2 separate regions of the Homo sapiens genome follow, and region 1 is reported to be linked to region 2. The links are microRNA targets in miRTarBase. Many come from high-throughput screens and were not tested one by one. Region 2 holds a microRNA gene; the other region holds the end of a gene's coding sequence.

Region 1 (5,333 bases), not on the chromosome of region 2:
AATTCTCCCACCTCAGCCTCCCAAGTAGCTGGGACTATAGATGCACCACCACACTCAGCTTATTTATTTATTTTAGAGATGAGGTCTCGGTTGGGTGGAGTGACTCAGGTCTGTAATCTCAGCATTTTGGGAAGCCAAGGCAGGCAGATCACTTAAGGTCAAGGGTTCAAGACCAGCCTGGCTGACATGGTGAAAACCCATCTCTACTAAAATTACAAAAACTAGCTGGGCATGGTGGTGCGCACCTGTAGTCTCAGCTACTAGGGAGACTGAGGCAGGAGAATCACTTGAACCCAGGAGGCGGAGGTTGCAGTGAGCCGAGATCATGCCACTGCACTCCAGCCTCGTCGACAGAACAAGATTCCATCTCTTAAAAAAGAAAAAGTAGAGATGAGGTCTCACTATATTGCCCAGGCTAGTCTTGAACTCCTGATATGGTAAAACCACGTCGCTACTAAAAATAAAAAATAAAAAAATTAGCCAGGTATGGTGTCATGTGCCTGTAGTCCCAGCTACTTGGGACGCATGAGAATCATTTGAACTAGGAGGCAGAGGTTGCAGTGAGACGACATCATGCCACTACACTCCAGCCTGGGCGACACAGCAAGACTCTATCTTAAAAAAAAAAAAAAGAAGTCAGGCTGGACTGGGCTAAGGGTATAAAAGAGGGGTTGGAAGTTGCACCAGACTACAGTAGGTTCCTAGGAAAGGGGATGGAGCTCTCTGGCTGAATCAGATCAGACCGGGTCAGGAAAAATGAGGAAGGAGCTGGGAGTCCAGGAGGGACAGAGGTTTGGGGTTGGGTTCAGACCTCTGTGGATCCAGAAGCCCTGGCTGGGGTACATGGTCAGACTATCCGAATGAATTAATTCACCAACAGACACATACGTAAACATATGCGTATACATGCCTACATACAAACACACGTATACACTGCCTTACCTGCACATATAAACAGATCCAGGCCCTCCCTAGCTCAGCAGCACAAAGCTCTTCAGCAATGTGCTAAGGCTTGGGACTGGGCCCACATATGTACCTGAAAACAAAGGGCATGAGGGTTTTGGAGGGTCTCTCTCTTCCCTCACCCCAGTAATTCCTCTTCACCAGGGGTTCCTGGGGGCAAATGGGGAGGAGCCAGATATGGGGCTCCAGAGGAAGTTGCTGGCCACTGTGTTTCCTGAGTTCAATAGTGTGTTTTCCTGCTTCTCTGACCTACCCCCTGCCCCCAAGTAGGATGGGGTCCAGGCCTGGCAATCTACCTTTTCCCTTGACTATCTCCCTCCATACACAAACATATACATACAAGACGTGAACCTACAAATACCCAACCGAGTCACACAACCACTGTCCCAGCAGCCCCATAACTCAACACAGTCGCACTGCTAAGCCACACATTTAACAACACACCCTCATTTACGGATTTATAGCCTTCACTCACACTCAGCAGTCACATCTTCTCTGCTTTGTTCAACATCATATCCCCAGCACCTAGAATGGGCCTAGTACCTAAAGAGGGCTCAATGAATAATATTTGAATGAATTAATTAACCAACAGACACATACATAAACATATGCATATACATGCCCACATACAAACACATGTATATACTCCCTTACCTGCACATATAAACAGATCCAGGCCCTCCCTAGCTCAGCAGCACATACATACACACACACTCAGGCTAATGGGCTAGATGTACACTCAGTGCCAGACACAGACCCACTGTAGATGTTACCTGGCACTCTCAGGGTGAGTTGCTGGTGGCAGTTGGCTGGTAAATGTCCTTCAGGCTGGCCAGATCTACAAAGGAAGAGTTGGGGGTGGGGTGCAATAGCATTCCTTGGGGTCCTGAGGCACTGGGTTATGAGAAGCTGGGCTGGCAGCAGGGCACGGCCAAGATAACTGTAGATTGGAGATTGGACAGGTCATACAGTCCCTTCCTCTGGTGTCTTCCTACCAGCTAGGGAGGTGAGGGTAGAGGTGCCAGTCTATCGGGCTTTATTTCAGGTCCAGGGAGAACTTAGGAGGGGAACAGTTTGAGGCCTCAGCTTCCCCTGCCTGGGATGACAAAGAGGGACACTGGATAGGGAGCTTTATGGGCACTAAGACCCCATCTCCAATCTACAGCGGGGTCTCCATATCTTCCCAGTCTGGAGAGTAGCAATCCTGCTACTCTCTTAATCCCCCACCCAGGGACCTTAGCACCAGGGGAGACTAATTTAGACCTCAGCTGCTGACCGGGCAGAGTGGACCACGCCTATAATCCTAGTACTTTGAGAGGCCAAGGCGGGTGGATCACCTGAGGTCAAGAGTTTGAAACCAGCCTGGCCAACATGGTGAAACCCTATCTCTACTAAAAAAAAAAAAAAAAAAAATACAAAAATTAGCCAGGCATAGTGGTGGGCACCTGTAATCCCAGCTACTTGGAAGGCTGAGGCAGGAGAATCACTTGAACCCAGGAAGTGGAGGTTGCAGTGACCTCAGATCATGCCACTGCCCTCCAGCCTGGGTAATGGAGCAAGACTCCATCTCAAAATAAATAAACCAACTAACCAACCAACATCAGCCAGGCTAGTAGACTGGGGGCTGGGTAGGGGTAGGAGTCTCCCAGGTACTCTAAGTACCCCAAGACCATCTAACCCAAGCCCCCTCCTGGGCCAAGTCCCCTCTCCCACCCCTCCCTCAACGGCATAACCCAAGGCAGTCTATCCCAGGAACCTGCCCCAGGAGGGCCACCTGTCTGGCTGCCCCATGACAGCTAAGGGTGAGAAGCAACAGTCCTGGGGTGAGAGGTGGGGAGCAGACTGAGAAAGCCAACTCTCCCTCAACTTTTGAGGGAGATGGGGCCAAGCTGGGACATCTGGGAACAAACTTTAGGGTCTTGGGTGAAGGAGAAGTGTAATTCAGGGAAACAACTTCAAGAGTGAGGGGAAATGTGAGGTGAGTGAAGGGATCCAATTCATAGTCTTAGGAACTGCAAGGATGGGGAAAAGATTGCCTTGGACTGAGTCATTATTAGGCATCAATGACCAACCAGGACACTCTCAAACCGAAAAGTCTCTTTATTGATTGGTACCATACATGACTCAAATGGCCCAAAAAAAAAAAAAAAAAAAAAAAAAAAAAAAAAAAAAAAAAAAGGCATTACAGTTGGGATGGGATGTCCACCTTCCTCACCCCTTCCCTCAGCTCCTGACTCAATACCCTTCCAAAAGTGGCAGCTGGAGTGGAGGAAATACGGTGTGGGGGACCCCAGAATCCAGAGGGAAGAGTGGGGAGAGAGGTGGTGTTAGCACTTCCTGGGACTGGCCACAGGAAAAGGCAGCAAAGCCACAGAGCTGGACCAGCTGCGTGAAACCCTGCTCCTGGCTGCACCCTGGCAGAGCCGAGGATCCCGGCTGCCTCCTCCTCCTTCCTTCTGTGAGGAAGGAGCGGCAGGGGATACTGGCAGGTGAAGACCCTCTACCTCTACCTCACCTATGGGGACAGAGGCCTGTTCCTCCCTGGTGGGCTTAGAACTGGGATGTCATCTGTGGCTCCTTCCCCTCTATGAAGGACAGAGTAGGATTACATATGCAGTTGGAGGGGCTGAGGGAAGATTCTGGAGGAAAGTGGCTGAGCCCCTCTCCCATCCCATGCCTGCCCAACTGAAACAAAACCAAAAATACAGCAACAAGGCTGCTCCCTTCTCTCCACGCTCCCTAAGGGAAGGAGCCTCCCCTCCCCGCATCCTAGACAGCTGCTCTTGTGGAGGACTTGTAAGGAATATACATACCATGGGGGTGGGGCTGGAAGAGAGGGAGTCACAAGCACTAGGAGGGCAGGCCAGAGTCCAGAGAATGGGGACACAGAGACAACAGCAGGGGTCTGTCACCAAAATGTGGCCACCAATGTCCCCCTACCCCATGGCATGCTTTCCTCAACTGCAGTCACCCCAGAGGAAAGGGGGAGAGATGGTGAAATGTCTCCTTGGTCTGAAGCTCTCACACCATATAAAATGGTATGCACACCTCCCTCCCCCACTCTCACCCCCACCTAGGCCCTAGGCCCCCATCTGCCAAGAGTAGGGAGGTAGCTGGACTTTTAATAGGGGGAAGAGGGGGGGACATGAGTGATTTTTTTTTTAACTTACATTTTTAATAATATTATTTTTAAAAAAACTTGGAGCTGGGATAAGTGGCAGCAGGGAGGAGGGGCCCAGAGCTTTACCCCTCTATTACCAGCTGCCTAGGGGAAGGAGCATTCAACGAAGCCCCGTAACTTTAAGTCCCTAAGGGCTGTGGGTATAGACAACCCCAGGCTTGAAAGGGGTAAAGTCAGGGGGATGGGAAACCCACAATCTGGGGTGAAGATGGAGGCAAATGCCCTGGGGGGTGGTCAGGACATGTCTCAGAGGCCCAGGTTCCAAGTAGGCATCCACATGAGTACCCCCTCCCCCTAAAAGGCTCTGTAGAGGCCAGGCCCAGCCCAGGGCCACTGGGGGGGCAAATCTTGGCACCTGCCCCCAGAGAGTCCAGTTCCTCCCTGAAGCGGGTGGATGGAGGCTGCCCATTTTAGATGCTCAGTCTCTTCATTCTGTCTTCTGCTCCCTGGGGCTGTGAGGGGTGGGGCAGGTAGGCAGAGCACTGGGTGGCCACAGCAGGGCCTTTTACTGGGAGGCCTGTGACGTGGGGTTCTCCGATTTGCTTTCTTGGCTGGACGGAGGCTTGCTGTTCCAGGGGCTGTTGGCGCCCAGTGCAGGGGAGTTGTTAAAGCTGTCCTCGTCGTCAATGCCGTTGGCTGCGTCAAACTGGGTGTTCTCCAGCCGGGTGATGAGCCTCTCGTCCTCGTCCCCGAACTCCCCGCCCATCAGGGTGGGCTCCCCCACCACCATCACATCCTGAGAGTGGCGGAGGTCCCCAAACATAATCGGGGCAAGGGCTCGCCCGGCCCAGGGCGGCAGATACCCCCAGAGCCCCAGTACCCACCCTGGAAGCTCAAGAGTCCCCACCCCCTCCTCATACCCGAATTTAAAACCCCAACTCCTGACACCCTCAGCTCCTGGAATCCTTCCTACTGAAGAACACCAGAGCATCAAAGCCTTTAGCCCATATCCATTACATTCTAGAAGTCACTCTACTCCCCTAGCTCCCTAGCCCATCTCCCCAAAATTTTAGGGGACTCCTCAACTTCTGTCCACATGTAAGAAAGGGAGCATATCAAAAACATGAGGGAGGGCAGTGTGTGCATGTGCAAGGGTATGTATTCTGGATCTGCAAACACTCCAGTCTGCATGTCTATCAGTGTGAGTGTGTGTGCTGGATGGTCTGTGAGCCCCAAGCTGTCTGTCCTG
Region 2 (5,352 bases):
CATGGCCTGGACGTGAGGACATTTCTGGGCGGGATTGGCGGCCGGAGGCTAGGCCTGGCGTGCCGCAACCAACCGGTCCAGGCGGCAGGACTGGGCTCTTGTTTGAAACTTTGAGCGACTCTCGCGTGTGCGTGCCCCTTTCATCCGCGCGTGCCAGCCATTCCCCTGGGCTCCTTACTTTTCAACCATTGCAGGAACCTACTCCTACCGAAGGGATCGGGACGCAGGCTTTGGGATCCATCCCCAGTTCCCGCCCGGGGAGCGAGGCCGAGACGCCTTTGGGAGACCTGCTGGGTCAGGTCTCCCTGAGCCGCAGCCGGAAGCGAAAGGGGTCGAGGGGCCCATATAGGTCACCTGTCCTTGCGGCCCGCGTCTTCGGCCTGCTTGGGAGCTGCTGGAGCGGAGGCGTAGGGCGGTGTCGGCCCTAGAGGTAGACGCCGCCAGGTGTAAACTGCTCGTCTAGGCCTGTCCCGGCCGGCTGGCCAGGCGTGGGCGCTGTCCCGGCCTGGCCTGGGGGACTATCTGCCTGCTGAGTGCAAAGGCCTGGGGTGCCTCCTGCCCTAGCTGAAGTGGGAGGTGGTTTCCATTGCTGTTTTCTTTTCCTTATCTTCACTACGGCGCTCATTCTATGTCTGACTCTTGAGTGTAATTAGTGTAAGTCCTTTTTATACACTCACGTTCTTTCATCTTCCAACAACTCTTGTGGTTCCTGATGAGGAGGCACCACGATGATGATTCCTTGTCTGTTCCAGAAGGGCTCCCGGCCCTTCACTTGGGGAGTTTGCTGGAGGAGAGCTGGGTTGCCTTGCTCTGTCAGCCCCAAGTTGTAAAGTGTCACAGAATTGGCAGGGAGGGTTCGTGGGTCACTGATTAGTGTTTATACTTCTCCAGCAAGGATGGAGGCTGGGGGAGGGCTGGGCAGCCTCAGGAGTGCCACCCCCTCTATGAGCAAACAGCTCAGTGCCAGCCGGTCAATAGGATGTGGGTCAAAGCTCATGCTGCCCCTGATGTCCAAGTGTGGAGCTCTGTCCTTGGAGTTTCTCTGCCCCTCGGTTGGTCAGACCTGGAGGCGGGGCTGCCATTGACCATGAGCCTTCTGGGCCTCAGGCAGGCCTGGGCCTCCCCCACCTGTCTGAGGGTGGTACCCGGTCAAAGACAGGTTTAACCTGCTTTGCCCCGCCCCTTCCCACCTGCTTGTCCCACTCCAGGTGTTTGCTCTGGCCCCACTCCAAACTCCTGGAGTGTGTGTGTTGAGGGCTTCGGTTATATGTGATTGCCCTCATTTGGCCTGGAGGAGGTGACAGTGGACTGGAACAGGGTTGGGGGGTGAGGGGAAGGGACATAGGGCTAGGCTCAACAGGCGTGGCCTCTTATTCCCAGGCAGGATAGGGCTGAACATCTGGCTGAACCAGCTTTGCAGCCTGCCTCCTTCCTCCTACCCTCACTTCCTGCCTGCCCAGCTGTGAATCTGTGTGTTTCTCTCTCCCCATTCCCTATCCCCAGTTCTCACAGCTGGTGAACGGGGATGTGGCTTTGCTGGGCGGGGGCCCCTACATGCTCTGCACTGATGGGCAGCAGCTATTGCGACAGGTCCTGCACCCCGAGGCCTCCAGGAAGGTATGCTCCTGAAGGAAAACCGGGTGGGGTGGGGTGGTCAGTAAGGTTCCCAGAACCCCTCTTGTCCTGAGGGTGGGCAGGGCGCTCATCCTCAATCCTATGTGCCCCCAGAACCTGGTGCTCCCCGACATGTTCTTCTCCTTCTATGACCTCCGAAGAGAATTCCATATGCAGCATCCAAGCACCTGCCCTGCCAGGGACCTCACTGTGGCCACCATGGCACAGGGTATCTGTGACCCAGCAGGGTTAGGGTGGAGAAGCCACTGTGGGTACATGTGTCTGAGTATGTGCATGCTGTGGGTGGGTAATATGGACACATACAAGACTGCGTTATCTGCTAAGTCCCTGAGTGTACTGTGTCTTCGTGTCTGTGCTAGGATGAGTTTGGAATGTGGGTATGTGTCTGTCTATGTCTGGACTGGGAATCTGTATGTGCACACATGAACTGGGCCAAAACAAATGTGTATGCTGGTCTCCAGCATGTGTCTATGGAGGGGAGTTGGGCCCAGGAGTAAACAGGATTAGTGCTTATGCTAAGATGTCTTCACTGTCACTTCTCTGCCCATAGGTTTAGGACTGGAGACAGATGCCACAGAGGATGACTTTGGGGTCTGGGAAGTCAAGACAATGGTAGCTGTTATCCTCCATCTACTCAAAGAGCCCAGCAGTAAGGTTTCCCTCACTGCCTGTCACCTGTTCTCAGGGATGACAAATGCCTATTGCTCCTCCCCACTGTGACCTTCTCTAAGAGACCACGGGGGAATCCTCTTTGTCATTTCTTTTTTTTTTTTTTTTTTGAGACAGTCTCCCTCTGTAGCCTAGGCTAGAGTGCAGTGGCACAATCTCAGCTCACTGCAACCTCCACTTTCCGGGTTCAAGCGATTCTCCTGTCTAAGCCTCCAGAGTAGCTGGGATTATAGGCGCCTGCCACCATGCCCACCTAATTTTTGTATTTTTAGTAGAGATGGGGTTTCACCATGTTGGCCAGGCTGGTCTGGAACTCCTGACCTCAAATGATCCACCCACCTTGGCCTCCCAAAGTGCTGGGATTATAGGCGTGAGCCACTGTGCTCGGCCTGTCATTTCTTCATCTCTCTCAATTGTCCACTTTTTGCAGAACTTGGTGGGGACACCCCTCTCCACCAGACCCTGCTGACCCCCAGGCCATCTTTTCTCAGGTCAATTGTTTTCGAAGCCCGAGGTGATAAAGCAGAAATACGAGACGGGGCCTTGGTGAGTGTGGGAGCAGGGGCTGGGGGTGACAACAGCTGAATAGCTCTGACAGCACTGTGCCCTGCCCCTACAGCAGCAAGGCTGATGTGGTGGACAGTGAGACTGTGGTACGGGCTCGTGGGTTGCCGTGGCAGTCATCAGACCAGGACGTGGCTCGCTTCTTCAAAGGGCTCAACGTGGCCAGGTGGGTGTGGCAGGGTGGGTGGGCCCAATTGGACAGGCCTACCCAGGAGGCACTAACAGCACTGGCTCCACAGGGGTGGTGTAGCACTCTGCCTCAACGCCCAGGGCCGCAGAAATGGCGAGGCCCTCATCCGCTTTGTGGACAGCGAGCAGCGGGACCTAGCGCTGCAGAGACACAAGCACCACATGGGCGTCCGCTATATTGAGGTGGGGCTTTGGGCTGGGAGCGGAGCAGGGCCAATCTGAGTCAGGCCTGAGACCCATGGGCTGCTGCTCTCTGTACCCACAGGTGTATAAAGCGACAGGGGAGGAGTTTGTAAAGATTGCAGGGGGTGAGTATACTGCAAACAGGGCCTGGCTCCCCTGGTTCTTGATCCATTTCACTTCCCCACCACCCCTTGCCTGCCTGCTCCCCTGCATGGGTGAGTGTCTGGAGGAGCATGAGTGAAGTCAGCAGGCGACTCTCATACACAGGCACATCACTAGAGGTGGCTCGTTTCTTGTCACGGGAAGACCAAGTGATCCTGCGGCTGCGGGGACTGCCCTTCTCGGCTGGGCCAACGGACGTGCTTGGCTTCCTGGGGCCAGAGTGCCCAGTGACTGGGGGTACCGAGGGGCTGCTCTTTGTGCGCCATCCTGATGGCCGGCCGACTGGTGATGCCTTCGCCCTCTTTGCTTGTGAGGAGCTGGCACAGGCTGCACTGCGCAGGCACAAGGGCATGCTGGGTAAGCGATACATTGAACTCTTCCGGAGCACTGCAGCCGAAGTGCAGCAGGTGAGCGCCCAGGGCTCCCCACCCCCAGATGTACTGTTACTCCAGGGCGGCCCTCTGTGTCCCTGCCCTACTTGGCATGACCAGCCTGTTGCTGCCTTCCTTACTAGGTCTTGAACCGCTATGCATCCGGCCCACTCCTTCCTACACTGACTGCCCCACTGCTGCCCATCCCCTTCCCACTGGCACCTGGGACTGGGAGGGACTGTGTACGCCTCCGAGGCCTGCCCTACACGGCCACCATTGAAGACATCCTGAGCTTTCTGGGGGAGGCAGCAGCTGACATTCGGCCCCACGGTGTACACATGGTGCTCAACCAGCAGGTGAAGCCACTGCTTGGTAGGGGGAACACATAAATAGGAAGGGGTGTGTGTTAGGGGTAAGGCACTCTTACACATGACAAACTGCTCACAAGATGGTGTGCACAGGGCCGGCCATCGGGCGATGCCTTCATTCAGATGACATCAGCAGAGCGAGCCCTAGCTGCTGCTCAGCGTTGCCATAAGAAGGTGATGAAGGAGCGCTACGTGGAGGTGGTCCCCTGTTCCACAGAGGAGATGAGCCGAGTGCTGATGGGGGGCACCTTGGGCCGCAGTGGCATGTCCCCTCCACCCTGCAAGCTGCCCTGTGAGTGCCCTAGGGGCTAGGGGAGGAGGAGGCCTGTGGTAGCCAGGCTGTTGTAAGCCCCTACCTTCTATAGCGGGGACTCCTTTCTGGCTACCCCACCCAGGGCAGTGCTGGGCTCCGTGCACATGCACTTTCTACTTCCGTCTCTAGGCCTCTCACCACCTACCTACACCACCTTCCAAGCCACCCCAACGCTCATTCCCACGGAGACGGCAGCTCTATACCCCTCTTCAGCACTGCTCCCAGCTGCCAGGGTGCCTGCTGCCCCCACCCCTGTTGCCTACTATCCAGGGCCAGCCACTCAACTCTACCTGAACTACACAGCCTACTACCCAAGGTACCCTGCAGCTAAGAGAATATCACAGTCCCACTCCCTGTCCCAATCTGGGGAAAGGTCACGATCCCCTTTCTGGACCAGATAACTCCTCCCTTGAGATGACAAGGGAGTAAGGTGGCAGCTGGCTAATGCCATCTACAAAACAGATCGAAAATGACTCTGTAGAGGCTGGGGCTTCAGGGAGGAACTGAATTAAGCACAAGGCAGAAACAAGGGAGGAGGGAAACAGGTCTCGGTCTAGGCCACAGGTGGCATGCATGACTAAACCTTGTCTCTCCCACCCTAGCCCCCCAGTCTCCCCCACCACTGTGGGCTACCTCACTACACCCACTGCTGCCCTGGCCTCTGCTCCCACCTCAGTGTTGTCCCAGTCAGGAGCCTTGGTCCGCATGCAGGGTGTCCCATACACGGCTGGTATGAAGGATCTGCTCAGCGTCTTCCAGGCCTACCAGGTGAGATTGTGTGGCCGGAGGGCCTGGCGGGTCTGGCTGAGCTCTCTGCCCTAAATCTGTGTCCCTTCTGTAGCTACCCGCTGATGACTACACCAGTCTGATGCCTGTTGGTGACCCACCTCGCACTGTG

What was found. The annotated mature microRNA hsa-miR-6773-3p reads ACUGUCACUUCUCUGCCCAUAG and lies in region 2 at 2,164-2,185, shown strand. An mRNA with a match to its seed (bases 2 to 7 or 8) in the 3' UTR can be bound and repressed. Matches are read on the target gene's strand: a 7mer-m8 pairs with bases 2 to 8, a 7mer-A1 pairs with bases 2 to 7 and ends in A, and an 8mer does both.
Region 1: miRTarBase lists LDB1 as a target of hsa-miR-6773-3p. Seed matches in the 3' UTR shown: 8mer at 3,868-3,875.

The regions. Positions count from the first base shown.
Region 1 is chr10:102,103,444-102,108,776 of GRCh38, forward strand. LDB1 (LIM domain binding 1) reads right to left here. Exons shown (of 11, transcript NM_001113407.3): 11 at 3,046-4,880. The coding sequence ends at 4,650. Among named protein-coding and RNA genes, the nearest start is that of LDB1, 14 kb to the right of the region's middle. RefSeq lists an enhancer at 4,077-4,578.
Region 2 is chr16:68,230,259-68,235,610 of GRCh38, reverse strand. MIR6773 (microRNA 6773) reads left to right here and starts at 2,112; the gene lies at 2,112-2,185. It overlaps ESRP2 (epithelial splicing regulatory protein 2), which reads left to right. Exons shown (of 15, transcript NM_024939.3): 3 at 1,504-1,617; 4 at 1,729-1,843; 5 at 2,186-2,284; 6 at 2,796-2,850; 7 at 2,924-3,034; 8 at 3,108-3,240; 9 at 3,323-3,365; 10 at 3,508-3,809; 11 at 3,917-4,129; 12 at 4,235-4,433; 13 at 4,584-4,770; 14 at 5,057-5,222; 15 at 5,296-5,352.